Regions from separate parts of the Homo sapiens genome. Here region 2 is linked to region 1. The links come from fine-mapping of genetic effects on gene expression. A gene starts in region 1. The other region holds a variant in brackets. All regions are shown on one strand. Distances are from middle to middle. Region 1 holds the start of FKRP (fukutin related protein). Region 2 has its middle 18 kb from the start of SLC1A5.

Region 1 (5,372 bases):
AAAACCAAAACAGATTATTATGTCACAAAATGATACATACAGCAGTAGTTCATCTATTACATAAGCACAATAACTCTTCTCTCTCAGGAGAGAAGAGCAGGAAAGGGACGAAGAGAAGGAACTTTCCTTTTTCACTTACATATATATGTGTATACACACACTCACACACACACACACACCCCTCTGAGATGTCTGAATTTTTACTAACTTAACAGAATAAAAGAAAACAAAAGTACAAAGTGACAGTGCTGGTACCATGCCAGACACAAGTTCCTCTCAAACTCCAAGAAGGGTCAGTAAGTGAGGGGATAAACATCTTTTCTCTCATCAGCCTCCAGGATGAGAAGATGGTGTGGTGGGTGCTGTGCGGTGCACTGGTGCAAAGTCCCAGAGGCCAAGATTCAGTCCAAGCTCTGCTATGACTGCTTGGGTGACCCTGGGGAGGCCACTATGCTTGCCTGAACCAATTTTCTCAACTGTACTGGGTAGCAGAGAGGTACAGAACATGGGCTTAAAAGTCTACCGACGGTCGGGCATGGTGGCTTATGCCTGTAATCCCAGCACTTTGGGAGGCCGAGGCAGGTGGATCTCTTGAGGCCAGGAGTTCGAAACCAGCCTGACCAACGTGGCAAAACCCCATCTCTACTAAAAATACAAAAATCAGCCAGGCGTGGTGGTGGTGCACACCTGTAATCCCAGCTACTTGCGAGGCTGAGGCAGGAGAATCGCTTGAACCTGGGAGGCAGTGGTTGCAATGAGCCAAGATCATGCCACTGCACTCCACCCTGGGTGACAGAGTGAGACTCTGTCTCAAAAAAATAAAAATAAAAATAAATAAATAAATAAATAAATAAACAAAAGGTCCACCACAGACCAGCCCTTCTGCTCATCTGCTGGGATCCTAGATAAATCACCCTCTCAAAACCTCCATTTCCTCTCCTGATTTTTTTTAAAGGTAGGGGGAATATCCTTTATCCTCCCAGAATGCTGCAAGAATTAAATGACAGCTCGTATCTACAGTACTTGATACAGCGCCCCAGACATGGTATGTGCTCACTAAATTGCAGCTGGTACCGTTATTGCTGAGTGAGGTAATGACACTGCCTCTGCCTACATCACAGGGCATTGTGAAGATCTGATGAGATGTATGCTGGGAAAGAGCTTCGGAAGTAGAGAGTGGGACAGAAGTGAGAGCAGTTACATAAGGATTCTGCTCCCATCCCAGCCCCAAGCCTCAGCCACCACAAGTGAGGGCAGGGGGAGAGTTACTGGAGGGTCTTTACTCATCCTATGAACAAAATGCTTTTTTTTGAGACAGGATCTCACTCTTTTGCCCAGGCTGGAGTGCAGTGGTGCAATCATGGCTCACCGCAGCCTCAACCTCCGGGGTTTAAGCAATCCTCCCACCTCAGCCTCCTGAGTAGCTGGGACTACAGGCGCATGTCACCACACCCGGCTAATTTTTGTACTTTTTTGTAGAGATGAGGTCTTGCTATGTTGGCCAGGCTGGCCTCGAACTCCTGGGCTCAAGGGATTCTCCCACCTCAACCTCCCCAAGTGTTGGGATTACAGGCGTGAGCCACCGCACCCCATCCCTACCGACACAATTCTCATCAGCTATTTATTTGGGTACCAGCTTCCTACTAGATAGCAAACGGCAAATCGGAAGGGGAAAGGTGGGCTGCTACAAGCAGGTAATGACAATTTCTGCTAATAATAACCCAGTCCAAGAATCTTCAGACTTCCAGCGGGCCATTCCTGATCCCTTCAAATCCGGACATCTCCATGGTCCTCCAGTCACTGCCAATGGACCTGACGCTCCACGAGGTCACAAACCCTAGCCCAACTCCTCAGACTCTTCCATTCAACATCCCTGTCCCAAGCTACCCCAAAAACCACGGGGTCTTTTCCCAAGACTTCCACAAACATATCCCCTTCCCCCCAACCCCAGTCTACCCCCGTTCCGAGATGCCTCCTCATGTTGCCTTCGGGCTCTACAAAATTCTCCCCCCTAAAGCATCACCCCAGGGTAACCCCTAACTCGTCCTCATTGGCACCATCCCAGGACCCTCACCTCCATACTGGACATGCCCAACACCCCACACTCCAGTTCAGGGCTCTCTACCTACATCCTACAACACACGTGCCATCTCAGTGCCATCGCGCCCACTCCTGCACACCCCCAAAGTGGAACTTCCACTCTTAAGCTCTCCCATCCAGGCTCCTAGGGTACATTCCCTGCTCTGTCCACACTTCCACTCCAAAGAACCCTTCCCTGCACTGTGCAGCCACACATGCCCGGGATCCCCAAAGTTTCTCCTCAGAGGGGAAGGCACACACCTTCATCCTGGACCCCTTGAAACCCTCCTCCCACCCCTCGGGTCCTTACACAGCCCTCCTTCCGTGCCCACCGTCCAGTCGCCCCGAAACACACCGATCCCAGGTTCCCGACTTCCTCTCCCTAAATCCTCCCGGTTCCCCATCTGGACCCGCTCTTTCCCAGCGGGTCCCAAGTTCCCCCCTTGGACGCTCCCACCTCCAACCTGCACCTGGCTAGGGCCATGGTCGGGGTCGGGGTCGGGAGTCCCTCGGCGCCCGGCAAGCTTCTGCTTACTCCCACAGGAGACCACTCAGGTCTCCCAGACCCCTCCAGCTCCTCTCCACACCCTTTCCCGAGTTCTCTTAGCCTCCCCTCCAGGGCTCGAGTCGCCTCTCTCAGGAGCCCCGCGGCCAGCGTGCTCAGTCCCAGTCCCAGTCCCACTCCCAGCTGGTTGTGGTCCCTCCGCCCCTTTCTCTCGGCCGGTCCCGGTGATCCCTCCCACCCCCGGTCCCTCCACTCCCACCTCGGGCCGTCCCGGTCCCGTCCCACCCCGGAGTGCCCTCAGGACACCCCTCGGACGGCCCCTCACTCGCCCTCCGGGACCGTCGCGGTCCCCTCCCGCCCCCCCGCCGGCCGTCCCGGCGGCCATTGCTCCAAGATGGCGGCGGCGGCGGCAGCGGGTGAGGCCGGGCCGGGCCGGGCCGGGTTGGGGGTCGGGGGTCCCGGGACAGCGCTCACCTGTAACTCGGCGCGCTCGGCCTCCCAGCGGGCTTTCTCGGCTTCGAAGCGCGCCCACTCGTGCTGGATAAAGTGCAGGATCCCCGGCAGGCTCAGGGGCTCCGGGCCCGCCGTGGGCCCGGGGCTGCCTCCGCCGCCGCCTCCCTTACCTGCCGGGCCCGGCCCGGGGGCAGGGGCGGAGACCGGGGCCGCCCCAGTGGGGCCAGGGCCCGCGCCTGAGCCGAGCGGACGGCAGGAGGAGGCGGCGGCGGCGACCGCGGCGGCCGCTCGCTCCTCCATCATGGAGGCCCCGGGGCCGGCCTGCGCGCCCGCTGTGCCTCGCGCGCCTGCGCGGCCGCGCCAACACCCCCCCCCCTCCCCCGCCGCAACCACCGCGCGCGCGCCCGGCGGGGGACAGTAGGAAGGGGGGCCGGCGGCGAGCGCGAGCCTCGCCCACCCGGGTCTACACCGAAGGGTAGCGTGCCCGCGCGGGGGCCGGCGGGTGGGAGATCGCGCCCCGAGGAGGGCGAGGGAGACCCAGGCCCCGCGCGACGGTCCCCCTCGCTGGAGTGAGACTGAGGAAGGGGCCGCTTTCTGCCCCCCTCCTCCCACTTCGCCCCAGAGAAAGAGCCTTACCCCTTCCACACCCAAACACCACTCTCCTGGACAATTACTTTTACTCTGAGAGAAAGGGCGACCAGCAGTGGCCCCATCCTCTCTGATTGCCGGCCAGGTTGGTTGTCATGGTAACCCTTCCCCAGCGGTGGGGGCGAGGTGGTGGGGAGCAGCCTTCCCCTCGCTTCCACCTTTGTGGTTATGGAGCCCCAAACCTCTTAGGACTCTGCACCAGGAGAAGGTTGCTAAGGTAACCTAAGTGTCCGTGGTGGTCCTTCTGCTCCTATCCTCATTGATTACTATGGCAACCTCCCCCCCACCTAGCATTCAGGTAGAAAGGACCCCAGCCCCAAGGACACTGATCTCTAAGAGAAGCACCTCTTCCCCAGCCCCTCCCCCATAGCCACCTAGTTGGCATTACCATGGTAACCGTCTTCCCCTTCCCATCGTGGGAGGCCCATGCACCAAACTAACCAGGTGTTTTTATTTAGAGGAGATGCTCTGCTGAGGGGCAGTTGCTATGGTTACAGGGCCTGGACCTTCCTCCGGAAGGTGAGAAACAGGCAAGTTCAAGGCCTGGTTACTATGATAATAGAGCAGCCCCCTTCGAGTGACCCTAGGAACCAAGCCCAACAAAGGAGGGGATTTTTTTTTTTTTTTTTTTTTTTGAGACAGAGTGTAACTCTTGTTGCCCAGGCTGGGATGCAATGGCCCAATCTCGGCTCACCACAACCTCCGCCTCCCCGGTTCAAGCCGTTCTCCTGCCTCACCCTCCCAAGTAGCTGGGATTACAGGCATGCGCCACCACGCCCGGCTAATTTTTTTTTTATTTTTAGTAAAGACGGGGTTTCTCCATGTTGGTCACGCTGGTCTTGAACTCCCGACCTCAGGTGATCTGCCTCAGGCCCGCCTCGGCCTCCCAAAGTGCTGGGATTACAGGTGTGAGCCATCACGCCCGGCCAGGGGATGTTTTAAGAATGTCTCTCAGAGGTAGAGTGTGTCTATGGAAGGGGTTGTCATGGTAACAGCTTCTGTTGGCTTCTAGCCCTACCTTTTCTGGACACATTCATGCTAGAGGGATGGTTATAGGTTGCTATAATAACTGACATCCCTCCCATTCACCCCACCCCACTCCTGAGACACCCCAGGTGGTGCCCGAGATTATAGGACTTCAAGAGAAAGGATTCCCTGACCTTTCTCTTGCCACTTTTGTGGATAAGATGAAATTGTGCTCTATTGTACGGAAATGGCTGATTTGGGATTTTCTGGTTCTCCTCCTCTCAGGAGCGCAGCTCAGCTGGGCTGGAACTGCCCTCCTGGAACTCCCCCAGCCTACAACCTAGGAGGTAAGAAGTCCCTCAGTGTCACCTACACTCTCATGGAAACTGCCCTTCCTCATTCCTTAAGGCTTTCCCATGTCTCTCATTTTTTTCTTTTTCTTTCTTTCTTTTTTGAGACGGAGTGTCGCTCTGTTGCCCGGGCTGAAATGCAGTGGCGCGGTCATGGCTCACTGCAACCTCCACCTCCCTGGTTCAAGCGATTCTCCTGCCTCAGCCTCCCGAGTAGCTGGGATTACAGGCACCTGCCACCACGCCCGGCTAATTTTTTGTATTTTTAATAGAGATGGGGTTTCACCTTGTTGGCAGGCTGGTCTCGAACTTCTGACCTCGTGATCCGCCCGCCTCGGCCTCCCAGAATGCTAGAATTACAGGCGTGAGCC
Region 2 (5,372 bases), 60 kb after region 1:
AGCACATTCCTAGTGATTATGTGGGTGTCACCCCTGAGGGCAGTTGGCCTGAAGGACCAGGACATTTTGAGTCTGGGAGGCACTGCTACCAGCTCAGACGCCTGGGCCTAGACATCCCTTGAATAAACTAGCTAATGAAAGGTCCCACCTCCACTTCTCCTTTCTGAGAGAAGTGTGAGGCCTGGGGCCTGGATTTGAGAGGTGTTAGAATTTGCACTTTAGCCCAGAGTGAGGAGCAGTGTAGGTGCTGATTAACAGGAACTGGACAAAGTCCTCCCAGAGCTGAAGAGCCCTGGCATTTTGGGGGTGGGAGGGGCAGGGCAAAGGGGCTCCAGTGAGAAGCACACCTGAGGCTCCAGTGAGGCCCATGAAACCGAGGAGGCTAATCCCATCCTGACACAGACAAGGCAACCATGTCTCAAAGTCCCACAGCCAATGAATGAAACAGCCAGGAGAGAGGCCAGGACCTGGGAACTTTATGCTTCCAACCACCAAAGCCCCGTGGTGGGGGGCCTCATATGGCCTGAGAAAATCAGCAACACACATTCCACACAACTGCTTTCTTCCAAGGGCCAATTTATTATTATTATTATTATTATTATTATTATTATTATTATTATTATTTTGAGATGGAGTCTCACTCTGTCACCCAGGCCGGAGTGCAGTGGCGCAATCTCGGCTCACTGCAACCTTTGCCTCCCAGGTTCAAGCAATTCTTGTGTCTTGGCCTCCCGAGTAACTGGGATTTACAGGCATCCACCAACCATGCCTGGCTAATTTTGTATATATATATTTTAATATGGAACGCTTCACACCTGGGATTACAGGTGTGAGCCACTGCCCCCGGCCCGAATGCCAATTAAAAAACAAAAAACTTTACTATTATTATTTTTATTTAAGGGACAAGGTCTCACTCTGTCACCCAGACTGGAGTGTGGTGGTGAGATCATAGCTCACTGCAGCCTCTAACTCCTGAGCTCAAGTCATCCTCCCATCTCAGCCTCCCGAGTACCTGGGACTACAGGTGTGCACCACCAATACACACATACAGATAGATAGATAGATAGATAGATAGATAGATAGATAGATAGATAGATGATAGATAGATAGATTAGTTTGTTTGTGATGGAGTCTTGCTCTGTTGCCCAGGCTGGAGTGCAGTGGTGCCATCTTGGCTCACTGCAACCTCTACCTCCCAAGTTCAAGCGATTCTCCTGCCTCAGACTCTCGAGTAGCTGGGACTATGGGCACATGCCACCACACCCGGCTAATTTTTGTATCTTTAGTAGAGACAGGGTTTCACCAGAAAAAAAAAAAACTTATTTGCTTTATCTTTTCGCTTTCCCCTGGTCCTGCCAGCCTGATTCCTTTTCCCGAATTAGGACTCCACAACTAATGTTTATCGAACATTTACTATAGCCCAGAGGTACAGCTTCTCAGCAAACCAATGGGTCCTATTAATATCCTCATTTTATAGCTGAGTAAACAGAGGTACAGACAGGTGATGTGACTTGGCCAAGGTCTCACAGCTTAATTGAGAGAGTCACATTTTTTTCTTTCTCTTTTTTATGATTATTTTAAAATTTTTAATTTTTTTTTAGGGACAAGATCTCGTTCTGTCACCCAGGCTGGGATGCAGTGGCATGATCATAGCTCACTGCAACCTTGAACTCCTGGGCTCAAGCAATTCTTCCGCCTCGGCCTCCTGAGTATAGCTGTAATCTCAGCACTTTGGGAGGCTATGCAGGGTGGATTGCTTGAGCCCAGGAGTTTGAGAACAGCCTGGGCAACATGACGAAACCCCATCTCTACAAAAAATATAGTAGCTGTGTACCAGCTACTCGGGAAGCTGAGCCTGGGAAGTCAATGCTGCAGTGAGCTGTGATTGCAACACTATACTTCAGCCTAGGTGTTGGAGTGAGACCCTGTCTCAAAACACACACACACACACACACACACACACACACACACACACACACACACACAGCCTGACAGAGGCATGCACTGTTGAAGGTGATAACGTGGAAGAGGACAAAAGTGACAGGCCAGGTGCTGGGCCTCATGGCAGCGTTCAAACTCCTGGAGCCAGCTATGCCTGAAGCCAGCCCATCGATTCCTGATGTCGCTGAAGAGTTACAATCAGGTTTTCAGCCACTTGAAACAGAAAGAGACCAAACGTACCCAGGGAAGGGACAAGTGGATTCAGCCCACTGATA[C/G]GGCAATGGGAAGTAGGGTTCATGGAAGGGGGAAAGGCGGGACCGTGTAAAAGTGAGTAGGAACACGACCCATTCCAGGGGACAGACAGCAGATCATCGGGGTGGCTGCCATGCAAAATTTATAAGGGGTCATGGTGAGGTCATGGTGCCACCTTTCAGTTGCAAGAGAAAGGGAGAAGCCGTGACTATTGTGAAAGCAAAGTAGAATCTCAGGACCCCGAATTCACTAGGTCAAAGGGAAAATTAAGCTGGGGAACTGAGGCACCAGTACTGTCTTCCTTTTGTTCCCAGATTGCTGTAATTTTCCAACCCCGTATCATAGCTTAATTTACTCTTTTTTTTTTTTTTTTTTCTGAGACAGCGTCTCGCTCTGTTGCCCAGGCTAGAGTGCAGTGGTGAATCTTGGCTCACTACAACCTCCGCCTCCCGGGTTCAAGCAATTCTCCTGCCTCAGCCTCCCGAGTAGCTGGGACTACAGGCACCCGCCACCACGCCTGGCTAATTTTTTGTATTTTTAGTAGAGACGGGGTTTCACTGTGTTAGACAGGATGGTCTCGATCTCCTGACCTGGTGATCCACCCACCTCAGCCTCCCGAAGTGCTGGGATTACAGGTGTGAGCCACCACGCCTGGCCATTTTTTAAATTTCATTTTATTTATTTTTTTTGAGATGGAGTCTCACTCTGTTGCCCAGGCTGGAGTATAGTGGTAAGAGCTCAGCTCACTGCAGTCTCCACCTCCCGGGTTCATGCGATTCTTGAGCTCAGCCTCCTGAGTAGCTGGGATTACAGGTGCCTGCCACCACACCTGGCTAATTTTTATATTTTTAGTAGAGACAGGGTTTCACCATTTTGGCCAGGCTGGTCTTGAACTCCTGACCTCAGGTGATCCACCTGCCTCTGCCTCCCAAAGTGCTGGGATTACAGGTGTGAGCCACCGCACCCGGCCAACACCGGATCGTATCTTGAAGGGAGAAGGGCTTCATGCAGGATCAGTGGGGAACATCAAAGGGTCTAAGCAGCAGAGTGACACAATCAAGTTTGTGTTTAGAAGCTTCTGCACTCTCACACATTTGCTGGTGGGTGTGGAAGTTGGTACGGCCTCCCTGGAAAGCCATTAGGCAAAAGGCCTTAATTTTAGATCCTCCCACACCCTTTGACACAGCAGTTCTTCTCTGAGGGATTTATTCCACGGCTATTGTCTTGCATGCGAAAAATCACCACAGCCCTGCTTGCAGTAGCAAAAGACTAGAAGCAAACTAAGCACATACCAGGAAGGAACCAGCAAAATATGTTGTGGCCATTCATGCTATGGAACACTAGACAGCTGTAGAAAAGAATGAGCCACGTTTACAGGCATTGCACTGGCGTGCTGGTAAATACTTAACCAGGCCGGGCATGGTGTACTTCCAGCATTTTGGGGGGCCTAGGTGGGAGAAGGGCTTGAGCCCAGGAGTTTGAGACCAGCCTGGGCAACATAGCAAGAACCCTGTCTCTACAAAAAAATACAAAAATTTGTCTGGGTGTGGTGGCTTATGCCTGTAATCCCAACACTTTGGGAGGCCAAGGTGGGCAGATCACTTGAGGCCAGGAGTTCAAGACCAGCCTGGCCAATGTGGCAAAACGCTGTCTCTACTAAAAATACAAAACTTAGCCAGGTGTGGTGGTACGTGCCTGTATTCCGAGCTGTTTGGGAGGCTGCAGCATGAAAATCACTTGAACCTAAGAGGTGAAGGTTGCAATGAGCTGAGATCACACCATTGCATCCAACCTGGGCGACAGAGCTGGACTCTGTCTCAAAGAAAATACAAAAATTAGCTGGGTGTGGTGGCACGTGCCTATAGTCCCAGCTACTCAGGAGGCTGAAGAGGGAGGATCGCTTGAGCCCAGGAGGTCGAGGCTGCAGTAAACTCTGATTGCACCACTGCACTCCAGCCTGAGTAACAGAGCAAAATCATCCATATATATATATGTATGTATGTGTGTGTATATATATATACACACACACATATGTGTGTATGTGTATGTATATACACATATGTATATATGTGTGTATATATATATATACACATATGTGTGTGTGTGTATATATATATATACACATATGTGTGTGTGTGTATATATACATAATTTTTTTTTTTTGAGACGGAGTCTCGCTCTGTCGCCCAGGCTGGAGTGCAGTGGCATGATCTCAGCTCACTGCAAGCTCTGCCTCCCAGGTTCACCCCATTCTCCTGCCTCAGCCTCCCGAGTAGCTGGGCCTACAGGTGCCCGCCACCACGCCCAGCTAATTTTTTGTATTTTTAATAGAGATGGGGTTTCACCATGTTAGCCAGGATGGTCTCGATCTCCCGACCTCATGATCTGCCTGCCTCAGCCTCCCAAAGTGCTGGGATTACAGGCGTGAGCCACTGCGCCCAGCCAATATATATATATATATATTTTTTTTTTTTTTAATTTAACCACCAGCTCTCTAGGGAAGAAACAGCCCTAATTTATACCATTTGCCAATTTCTACAGTGTAAATATTCCCACTGTGGTTGATTTCTAGTTACTGATAGGATGTCATTGGATGTGGAATTCAGAAGAGACAAGCAACCACCCACTATCACTCAGGATTTCCACCAGGCAGAGATAAGTAGCCTGGAGAGCATAGATAATAGTAAAAATGTAGCAATTAGGATGCAATGCATTTGAACTATTTATTATATTTGTTTTTAACATAATTTATTTATCTGTAACTTTGTATCATTTAATTGTTAATAATACCTATGTTTAACAACTGGTTTGTGAAATTCCCAAAAGTGTAGCAATCTGCTCTTGAGAACTGGGCACAGCACACATTGAGACACAAATGGATCTTCAAGAAGAGAAAGCAAAAGCCAACTTTTGGAAAATGGCCTGGAAGGTTCTACACTGCTCACTCCCTTAATTTTAATTTTATTTATTTATTTATTTATTTATTTATTTATTTATTTATTTATTTTTTGAGACAGGGTCTCACTCTGTCACCCAGGCTGGAGTGCAGTGGCGCAATCGCAGCTCACTGCAGCCCCCTGGGCTCAAGCGATCCTCCCATCTCAGCCATCTGAACTACAGGCACGCACCACCGCACCCAGCTAATTTTAAATTTTTTTTTTTTTTTTGGAGATGGAATC

The links.
Region 2: its variant is fine-mapped to the expression of FKRP in hippocampus (GTEx, PIP 0.95).

The regions. Positions count from the first base shown.
Region 1 is chr19:46,743,091-46,748,462 of GRCh38, forward strand. FKRP (fukutin related protein) reads left to right here and starts at 2,967. Exons shown (of 4, transcript NM_024301.5): 1 at 2,967-3,000; 2 at 4,937-4,998. It overlaps STRN4 (striatin 4), which reads right to left and starts at 3,360. Exons shown (of 18, transcript NM_013403.3): 1 at 3,059-3,360. The coding sequence starts at 3,340. RefSeq lists silencers at 2,906-3,135, 3,346-3,395, 3,406-3,555, 3,596-3,695, 3,736-3,785.
Region 2 is chr19:46,803,522-46,808,893 of GRCh38, forward strand. No RefSeq gene overlaps it. Among named protein-coding and RNA genes, the nearest start is that of SLC1A5, 18 kb to the left of the region's middle. The variant C/G (reference allele first, on the strand shown) is at 2,217.